3 linked regions of the Homo sapiens genome follow. The protein of the gene in region 3 interacts with the protein of the main gene of each other region in a biochemical or structural test. Each region holds a gene or a part of one and is shown on either strand. Other genes may lie near its edges. The genes, in order: SIRT1, MAP1LC3B and STK4.

The links.
Region 1: of the proteins of STK4 (region 3) and SIRT1, one has a biochemical effect on the other in vitro, tested with the Homo sapiens proteins (one study listed by BioGRID).
Region 2: the proteins of STK4 (region 3) and MAP1LC3B form a complex in vitro, tested with the Homo sapiens proteins (2 studies listed by BioGRID and IntAct, with this or other methods).

Annotation. Positions count from the first base shown.
Region 1 is NC_000010.11:67,908,533-67,912,155, reverse strand, and holds part of SIRT1 (NAD-dependent protein deacetylase sirtuin-1), read right to left. Parts: intron 2,901-3,623; coding exon 2,714-2,900; intron 1-2,713. UniProt on the Homo sapiens protein: NAD-dependent protein deacetylase that links transcriptional regulation directly to intracellular energetics and participates in the coordination of several separated cellular functions such as cell cycle, response to DNA damage, metabolism, apoptosis and autophagy.
Region 2 is NC_000016.10:87,402,336-87,405,447, reverse strand, and holds the end of MAP1LC3B (microtubule-associated protein 1 light chain 3 beta), read right to left. Parts: intron 2,526-3,112; coding exon 2,351-2,525; 3' UTR 674-2,350; downstream 1-673.
Region 3 is NC_000020.11:44,993,973-44,997,645, reverse strand, and holds part of STK4 (serine/threonine-protein kinase 4), read right to left. Parts: intron 2,557-3,673; coding exon 2,389-2,556; intron 478-2,388; coding exon 340-477; intron 1-339. UniProt on the Homo sapiens protein: Stress-activated, pro-apoptotic kinase which, following caspase-cleavage, enters the nucleus and induces chromatin condensation followed by internucleosomal DNA fragmentation.

The sequences.
Region 1 (3,623 bases), on a different chromosome or scaffold from region 3:
TGTGGTGAGGATTAAATGAGTTAGTCAAGTGCACAGAAGAGTTCTTGGTACATAAATGTTCTACTTAAGTAGCTCCTGATATAAAGAAGGTGAGCTGGGTACAGTGGCTCACGCCTGTAATCCCAGCACTTTGGGAGGCCGAGGCAGGCGGATCACCTGAGGTCAGGAGTTCAAGACCAACCCGACCAACATGGTGAAACCCCATCTCTACTAAAAACACAAAATTAGCCGGGCGTGTGGTAGCGCATGCCTCTAATCCCAACTACTTGGGAGGAGAACTGCTTGAACACGGGAGACTGCAGTGAGCCGAGATCATGCCATTGCACTCCAGCCTGGGCAATGAGGGAGGGAGGGAGGATAGGAGGGAGGGAGGGAGGGTGGGAGGAAGGAAGGACGGACAGATGAACGGAAGGAAGGACAGACAGAAGGATGGACGAAGGAAGGAAGGAAGAACGGACGGGAAGGATGGACAGAAGGAAGGACTAACAGAAGGAAGGATGAATGGAAGGAAGGACAAACGGAAGGGAGGGAGGGAGGGGAGGGGGGGAGGGAAAAAGTCATATAAACATATTCTACGCTATTATAAACCTGTTTCTTTTTTTAATTATCTTTGCAACACATCATACTATCCCACAGAAAGCTTTTGAAAGAAAAGTTTTTAAGGACCAGGCATGGTAGCTCATGCCTGTAATCCTAATGCTTTGAGAGGCAGAGGAGGAAGGATCACTTGAGGCCAGGAGTTTGTGACCAGCCTGGGCAACAAAGTGAATCCCGTTTCTACAAAAAAAAATTTAAAAATTTGCCAAGCATGGTGTGCGCCTCTGGTCCTAACTACTCAGGAAGCTGAAGTGGAAGGACTGCTTGTCCCCAGGAGTTGAAGGCTGCAGTGAGCTGAAACTGCACCACTGCACTCTAGCCTGAGCTACAGCAAGACACCCGTCTCTAAAAAATAAAAAGAAAAGCTTTTAAGCAGAGTGCCTTTGATTTTGCTTTAAGAAGAGCAACTCAAGAACAAAGAGATTTGTATATTAAATTTTCATGTTTCATTTAATTGCAAATTGTCTTGTATTCTACTTTAACAGAATTTCACAGCTAATTAGGTAAGACTGAGTTAACTGCTAAAGCCACGAGATATGGGATAGACACAAAATTGAAGAGCTTGACTCCATGTTTCTTCCAACTGTTTACTCTGGCTGCCTTGACTGCTGATGTGGGGTCTAATTCAATTCTCTGGCTAGGGATTTAATATTTTTCCTCTCCTCTTTCCCTCACTTATGAAAGGACACATCTGATGCAACTGAAATCTCTCTCTCTCCTCCTCTGATTCTAAACTAGAGGAGGAAACAGACAGTATGAGAATATATATGACAAAGAAATTTTCCTGAGAGTAATAAGGATTTAAATTTTATGTGAACACTTTTATATACACACCCTTTTGGGTAAACTATATCGACATATCACCGTTATGGCATGGCTGTTACTACAAGAATGAACCAATCATTCTGAGCCCCCAAATTCCATCTTACATGGTATGTTACACTTCTACCAAACTATACATTTGAATTTATTAAATGTGAAATCAATTAAATTTGAAAGATCAAAACTGTAATCAAAAAATATAAGGATAAAGGACCATTTCATAAATTAATTGATGCTAACCCTTGCAACATTAAAAACACATTCCACCAAAAAGTCTAAGTTGAACTCTACCTTTGTCTTAATTTTTCACATAAATTAGAAGTAGAGTTTAGCATTACTTCTGGGTTTGTTTTTGATTTTTTGAGACAGAGTCCCACTCTGTCACCCAGGCTGGAGTGCAGTGGCACATTCTCGGCTCATTGCAACCTCTGCCTCCTGAGTTCAAGCGATTCTCATGCCCCAACCTCCCAAGTAGCTGGGACTACATGTGCACACCACTATGCCCAGCTAATTTTTGTATTTTTAGTAGAGACAGGGTTTCACCATGTTGGCCAGGCTGGTCTCAAACTGCTGCCCTCAAGCGATCCACCTACCTCGGCCTCCCAAAGTGCTGAGATTACAGGCACGAGCCACCAACATTACTTGCGTTTTGACAACCCTCCACCCCCCATCAAAATGTCAGATTCACCAGTCTCAATGAACAATGCCACCTAAAAAAACAGTTCAGCCAGATGTGGAGGCTCGTGCCTGTAATCCTAGCTACTCAAGGGGCTGAGGCAGGAGGATCACTTGAGCCCAGGAGTTCGAATCCAGCCTGGGCAACACAACAAGACCTCATCTCTACTAAAAATAAAGAATTTCTGGCCAGGCATGGGGGCTCATGCCTGTAATCCCAGCACTTTAGAAGGCAGAGACAGGCGGATCACCTGAGCTGAGGAGTTCGAGACCAGCCTGGCCAACATGGTGAAACCCGGTCTATACTAAAAATACAAAAACTAGCCAGGCATGTTGGTGGACGCCTGTGATCCCAGCTACTCAGAAGGCTGAGGCAGAAGAATCGCTTGAACCCGGGAGGCGGAGGTTGCAGTGAGCCAAGATATGCGACTGCACTCCAGCCTGGGCAACAAGAGGGAAACTCCATCTCAATAAACAAACAAACAAACAATTTCTAAAATTAGCTCTTCACCACTCTTTCAAACAGAAGCAGAGTTAAGATTACTAGCGTCTATTATACAGACCCACAACCCATGACATTATATATAGAAATGTTCTCCAAAAACCATCACCAACTTACTTGGAATTAGTGCTACTGGTCTTACTTTGAGGGAAGACCCAATAACAATGAGGAGGTCAACTTCATCTTTGTCATACTTCATGGCTCTATGAAACTGTTCTGGTAAATTTTCACCAAAAAACACAATCTCTGGTTTCATGATAGCAAGCGGTTCATCAGCTGGGCACCTAGGACATCGAGGAACTACCTACATATTTTCAGATTTTGGTTGAGGTAGAGAAGCAAAGAGTAAGCCCAAGTTAGAAATAGTCAACATTTCCATACCTCTAAGAATACATTTCAGAATTATTAAAAAAAAAACAAAACAGAAAAGCTATGGATAAACAGCAACTGTCAATGATGGGTAGTTTATTAACATACTATGAAACAATGAAATACTATGCTCTTGTTATAATATCTATGTAGAAAAACACTTGACATTGAAGAGTCCATCATATATTAAGAGGAAAAACATAATGTGTGTATATACACTAAATGGGAATTGATCCTTTCAAAAAAAAATAGACATTTGTCAAATAAAATGATTCCATTTTATTTATTTGAGATGGAGTCTTGTTCTGTTGCCCAGCCTGGAGTGAAGTGGCATGATCTCAGCTCACTACAACCTCCACCTCCCGAGTTCAAATAATTCTCCTGCCTCAGCCTCCCAAGCAGCTGAGATTAAAGGCATATGCCACCATGCCAGGCTAATTTTTGTATTTTTAAGAGAGACGGGGTTTTGCCATGTTGGCCAGGCTGGTCTCACTTCTGACCTCAAATGATCGACCCACCTCGTCCTCCCAAAGTGCTGGGATTACAAGCATGAGCCACTGCACCCGACCAATGACTCCATTTTAATATACTATTCTTCCTCTTTCGTAATGACATGATTACCTCCATATATTGCTAAGCACACAGGACATATTTCTGG
Region 2 (3,112 bases), on a different chromosome or scaffold from region 3:
CTGGTGATGTCAGGGAAGTGAGTGGGGCTACAGCACCCACGGGGAGCTCCGAAGACGGGACAAGGGACGCAGACGCTTCTATTGAGCAGCTGGCCTGGGAAGGCAGTTTTCTCAGGTCACTCCCTTGTATTTTTCAACAGACTTTTAGGTGCCTACTTAAACGGGAGCTGGGCTCAGAGTTCCCTAGATGATGAGGTTGGCCACTTTTTGTCTGGTCTGAGTGCTGAAGTGTGTGTGTGCTGCATCTGTACACGATGCCAGCAGCTCCCCACTGGGTCCCCCAAGGGTACACTTTCTCGACCACACACACATACCTAATAAATACTTATGGTGGTGGGTGGTTTACAGCAGTAGGTTGTTGGGTGTTATAGTCCCACAAAACATGTAGGTCAATTCGCATCCATCCTGATAGCCCGTGGCACGTGAGTTCTCAAGAGGACTTGGCTTTGTAAAGGCCAGACCTGGTGGCAGGGCCTTGGCCAAGGTGGAGGGTGCCCTTGACAAGGCAGAGGCCCTCGGAGGGCAATGCTCATCCACGTGAGTGCCCCCTCTGCACGAGAGGACCAGCCTGGATGCCCCTCCTTGGAAATACAAGGACCCGCTTGGCTTTGGAAAGTACAAACAGTGTGGGATCCAAGTCTCAAATACGGAATCCCATTAAACTGGGCTTTGATGACAGTTTTTAATTGTGCCTTTATTCAACTTAGTTCATTAAAAATGTTTTAAAGATCCTATAAATAAAGTGACCACTCACATGGGATATAGGTCACCCCTCAGCATGTTATTTTTTTTCTTAAAAAGCAGTATTTCTTACAGGAATCTTACTGATCACACGGTAGTTACAATAATGTCAGATATGATGTATACAGTCTAAACGAGACAGTCCAGTTAAGAATATACATAATGTAAAAATACACATATTAAAAGTTAGCCAAGTGGACAGACGCATGCGGGGGTGGGGGGAGCAGGTGACAGGAACTCCTTTAACAATCAGTAGAGGGCCCAGATGCAAAGAATCTGGTTTTCCCCGTTACAGTAAACAGCTTTCACTAACGTATACAGGTATTTCATACACATCTAAACACACAAGGGTAAGTTGTGACCTGCTACACATAGGGTCTAAAGTGGTGTAATTGTGATTTTCCTGTGATACTCCCAAGAAAACTATAAATAGTGAACCCCATGCAAGTACTGGGAAGCACTAGTCTTTTATCACAGGTTGAACCTGAGGAGGTTTAACTCTTGACATTAGTATCTGTAAAGAGCGTACGGCTCTTTTTGCTATGTTTTCTCCACAACTGACATGCACTTGGTGTGGGAGAATTCTGATGGCTGTCTGACCTAAGAGTGATAACTACTATTCAAAATGTGGGTACCTTTTCAGTAATACTGAGTTACACATTTAACATTAAAAAAACAAAAACGTGGATCATCCACAGCTTTAAGCCGGAAGGCAGAAGGGAGTGTGTCTGAATGTTAATGTTTTCAGTTATACTATTTTGTGTTTCTCCCGCTGTACTCCAGAGTGACACTGGTACACTGCTGCTTTCCGTAACAACACAGGCACTAGTTTGAACTCAGACAAAACCTGAAACAGAAGAAATGCCACTCTTTCTCCAGGGTCTTTTAAGAAACTCGATCAAAATTATAAATTATTCAAGTTTCCTTTTGAGTGGTGTCTTTATGTGTGTAACTATCTAGAGAACAAACCAAACCAGAAATGTCTACCCCTGCAAGAGTGAGGACTTTGGGTGTGGTTCTCTTAGGAGTCAGGGACCTTCAGCAGTTTACAGTCAGGGCCGTTTTCTCACACAGCCCGTTTACCCTGCGTTTGTGCCAACTGTGATGGCAAATGCGTTTTGCGGGGGTTGCGCTTCACAACTCAGGCCTAAAGATCCTCTTAGGGAGATCTCTCTAGCTGAGTAGAAAACTTCTACCCAAAAAGGCGGCGGGTTTTGTGAACCTGAAGAGAAGACTCAGGGTCTCTCTGAAAGCCTTTAAATTACTGCTGGAATTACAAGTTCCTATTAGTGAGAAAAGAGCATTAAAATAACTTGAAGGTCTATTTTATTGGCAACTTAGAATGCAAAGTATTTTATTTTTAAACTTTTAAAATTTGAAAACAAGCTAGCCTACATTAAATAATATAGTTTCCAAAGCTGAATGTGCTCACTTGGAGCTCAGTTTTTCTGCTTGAAACACAAACACAACTTCCTAACACTCCTAGGTGGGAACACTACTGTTTCATGATCTGTGATTGGATGAACTGATCGATCTCAGTTGGTAACATCCCTTTTTTTTCCTTGGTAAGGGTTTAAACAATTCTAGAAGAGCTGCATTTTTTCTGGTTTTACACTGACAATTTCATCCCGAACGTCTCCTGGGAGGCATAGACCATGTACAGGAATCCATCTTCATCTTTCTCACTCTCATACACCTCTGAGATTGGTGTGGAGACGCTGACCATGCTGTGTCCGTTCACCAACAGGAAGAAGGCCTGATTAGCATTGAGCTGTAAGCGCCTTCTATTGAAAGAAAACAACGTGAAGAAATATTGACAACAATACAAGAAGGATGAAGCATGTGTTAAAATATCACCCACTCTGATCGGTAAAATATAAAAATGTTCTAAATGCTCTTGAATCCAATACTTCTCATAAAGCACAGGACACTTCCTTTGATTATATTGACATGAGCTATAATCACTGAAAGATTACATATTAGGCTGATTTTAAACTAGTATACTGTCTGAACAGCTGTTAAACTGTCTAATATAAGAAAGCAGTTCAAATACAGTTTCTGAACTATTCTAAGATCTAAGCCTGTGCCATTTACTGCCACTCACAGAGTCTACATTCTCTTTAACTAGCTTTGCTGTACAATACCTTAATAACTTGTAACACTGATTTTAAACAGGAAACATCTAAACGATGTTATGATGAAAGAAACGGGCTCTGCAGTCTAGCAAGTAATATAAAACCTCAAAAAAAGAAACATTTTATAGTTTAAGTTGAAATTGTTTTAATCATAACTGAATCAGAACTGAATTCAGCTGAAAAATATTTTTTAAAGATTTTAACCAGAACTAAAGATTTAACTGTAAGTTTCATAA
Region 3 (3,673 bases):
GCCTCACTGCGGCCTCAACCTCCTGGGATCAAGAGATTCTCCCACCTCCCACCTCAGCCTTCCAGGTAGCTGGAACTACAGGCATGCGCCACCACACCTGGCTAATTTTTTGCATTCTTTTTGTAGAGACATGGTTTCACCATGCTGGCTGGCCTCAAACTCCTGGGCTCAAGCAATATACCTGCCTCAGCCTCCCAAAGTGCTACGATTACAGGCGTGAGCCACTGCACCCAGCCTGCCTTATACTTCTTTACTATCTCCACGTAGGTGACCTCATGGCATCTTTTGGTCAGCAAGTAAATGAAATGGAGCGAGATGGCATCACAGGGTGATTCATACCTGCAGGAGCTGAGTGGCTGTGGCCCTCTGCTCAGGGCTCTTTACAAGACACTGTTTCACAAAATCTGTAAAGTTATCTGACCATAGCTCTGGTTTTCGGAATGTGGGAGGAGGATTTGTAGGAATCATGAAGATTGCCTGGTTAGAACAAACAAACAAACAAAAAGATCTGGTAAAATAAAAGTAATGCTCCAATAAAAAATACATGTGGAATTACATTTGAAGCTTGGTAAATGATTTTTCACTTACCCACTGAGAAGCTCACCCAAATTCCAACAAAAGTCTAAGCATCTGATGGTTAAAGAACCTGATATATCTCCCTCTCTCCTTTTCCCTCTCTCATATATGGGTCTTGTTCCCTAAACCTCACAACATCAATCAAGCTTTTTTATTATTATTATTTTGGTAACCACAGTACATTGCCTTTCAAAGTAGAAAGGCGAGACCTAAGAGTATCTACATCCTAAAGATAACCTTGACCCCATAGTTGTCAAGTTTCCCTGCCTCTTAAAAGTTATTACCACCCCCAGATGTCAGCAGCAACTACACAATAAGGTCATCAACCAGAAGTCCCAAAAATCACAATGGGGTCATTAACTTCCAAAGTAAGCTAAATCAACGCATGTGTGAGGGGGAAAAATTAAAAATTGGCCCACTACGTTGCAGTTACATTCTACTATGTCCAAAAATAAGACTATTATTTATTAAATTTCCAATTTTAAAAAAGCCATGTTTTTTGAAAAGTAAAACACTATACAAATAAGCAGCTTAAATTATATTCTTTAAATCTAAAATTGTAACTAGTAAATCTCCTCACTCCTTCTCCCAAAAAAGAGGGAGGACTTACCTTGGGAACATGAATTTGTGTAAGTCTTTTAATAGGAGAATTAATTAGTCAGAGAAGAGGAAGAGCTGTGGTAAGGAAGGATGGAGAGGACCACAGAGCCCCTGAGGAAGGCAGGGTTGGCGGGGGGGTGTATTACAACAGTGCTGTGATGAAGGGTTCTGGGACAGTTAAGCCTGGGAACTGCTTAGGGTGTGAGCACTGGAAGAGCTTCACTGGAGATGCATTCTATGGGCCCTTAACATTCTAGAAGGAGACAGGGGTTGGAGAGTACACAGCCTCCAGATGAAGAGGATATGGGGATCTACAAACCAAAACTTACAAATTCAAAACACCTATAGGGGCCAGGCAGAAGAAAGATAAAAAATGAACAAGGCTGGGTTTCAGTGACATGAGTTCAAAAATACAGTTTGCTTTCTTCTTAACACTATTATAAGAAAAACATTAGAGAAATACTGTAATAAGTGGCAGCTAATACTTGGTGACACAACAGGGAATCATGGAGACTGATAAAGTAGAGAGTTCATACTCTGAACCACTACTCAGCTCTAGTGAATGTTGACATGTTAAAATGTGGTTGTCTAAACTATTCAAAATGAGTGAGTGACAGACAGAGAGAGAGAGTAGCACAAATCAAACTAAGCATTTCTATGGCCTATGTCCTGCCAGAGGGCTATCAATACACAACCTCTGGAATGGAGAGGGGTGGAACACACTTAAATTAATTAATGACTACAACTAGAGTCAGTAGAGGTGTATCATCTATAGCGACACTTACAAATTTACACATAATTCATTTATTGTTTGCAACTTAAACAAGTAAGCCATTGAACTTTTTTTTTTTTTTTTTTTTTTTTGAGATGGAGTCTCACTCTCTCTCCCAGGCTAGAGTACAGTGTCACGATCTCAGCTCACTGCAACCTCTGCCTCTGGGGTTCAAGTGATTCTCATGCCTCAGTCTCCCAAGCAGCTGGGATTACAGGCGCACGCCACCACACCCAGCTAATTTTTGTATTTTTAGTAGAGACAAGGTTTCACCATGTTGGCCAGGTTGGTCTCAAACTCCTGACCTCTGGTGATCCATCCACCTCAGCCTCCCAAAGTGCTGGGATTACACGTGTGAGCCACAACACCTGGCTTGAACTTCACTTTTTAATGATGATCAGTAACTAACCACCCCACTGGCTTTCTGTCCACTTTCTTACCCTCATTGGATGGATATCAGCATAAGGGGGCTTTCCTTCAGCCATTTCTATGGCAGTTATTCCCAGGGACCAGATGTCTGCTACACAGTTGTATCCAATTTCCTGAATCACTTCTGGAGCCATCCAAAATGGTGTTCCTATCACTGTATTCCGCTTGGCCATGGTATCCTAAAATAGAAAGGGAGAGAGACTGACACTAAGCTTAAAACTACTGAGATGTCCACAGAGGAAGTCTACAGAGAAAAAAAGAAGAAAAAAAAAAAAACTACTGAGAAAAAGAGGCTTTTCCAACAATAAAAAAATGCCTTGTACTTGAAATACATATAAAAACCATACTCTGAGCATGATCAAGCAGGCATAGAAGAAATTCAAATGACAAAGAAACACAAAAAGATTCTCAATCAATTATTAAAACAAAAACTAAAATGACTGACAAAAAATTTTAAATTAATAATTAATGCTGATAATAGCATAGAAAATCAGGCACCGAAATAAAATGTTACTGTAGTATAAATTGGTACATTTTAGTACATAAGTTGGCAATATTTATTCAACTTTTAAATATTCATATCCTTTGATCCAAATCTATTTCTTGAAATCTATCTTATGTTCAAGTATCTCAAACGATATGCACAAAGACTGTAGAAATGTCTGTAATGGGGGAGATGAGGAGGAAAAGGAAACAACTCAAATGATCATCAAAAGATAGTAAGTTAAATATAATAAATAACCATATACTGAAACACCATATTAAAAAGAAAAAAAAAAGAAGATATATACCTTTTCCTAGCATGAAAAAAATGCACAACATACATTACAAAGCAAAAAAAAGTTGTACAATTATATATAATATAGCCCTGTTTTTGTAAAAGGAAAATATATATAATAATGATGATCATAACAATAATAAAACAATAACCAATAATATGAAACACTGTTATATCATAGCACAAAAAATCTGGAGTAATACACACCAAACCATTAATTATATCTAGTAGGCAGAATCACTAAAGATTTTTACTGTCTATCCTGTATACATCTGTAACATTCTGAAGGTTTATATGAGCATACATGTGCAATAAAAAAATTTTAAACTTGATATATAAAAAATAATATACAAAATATCTTAGTTTATGGGCTAAAGAAGAATATGTGGATACAGTACACATTACAGCAAATAACCACTTGCATACTTTCTCAGGATGGCATGGCCCTACTGAAAGAGAACCTCCCTACAGTTCCTATGCTTTAGCAAAAGAAGGATTTTTTTTTTTTTTTTGAGAAA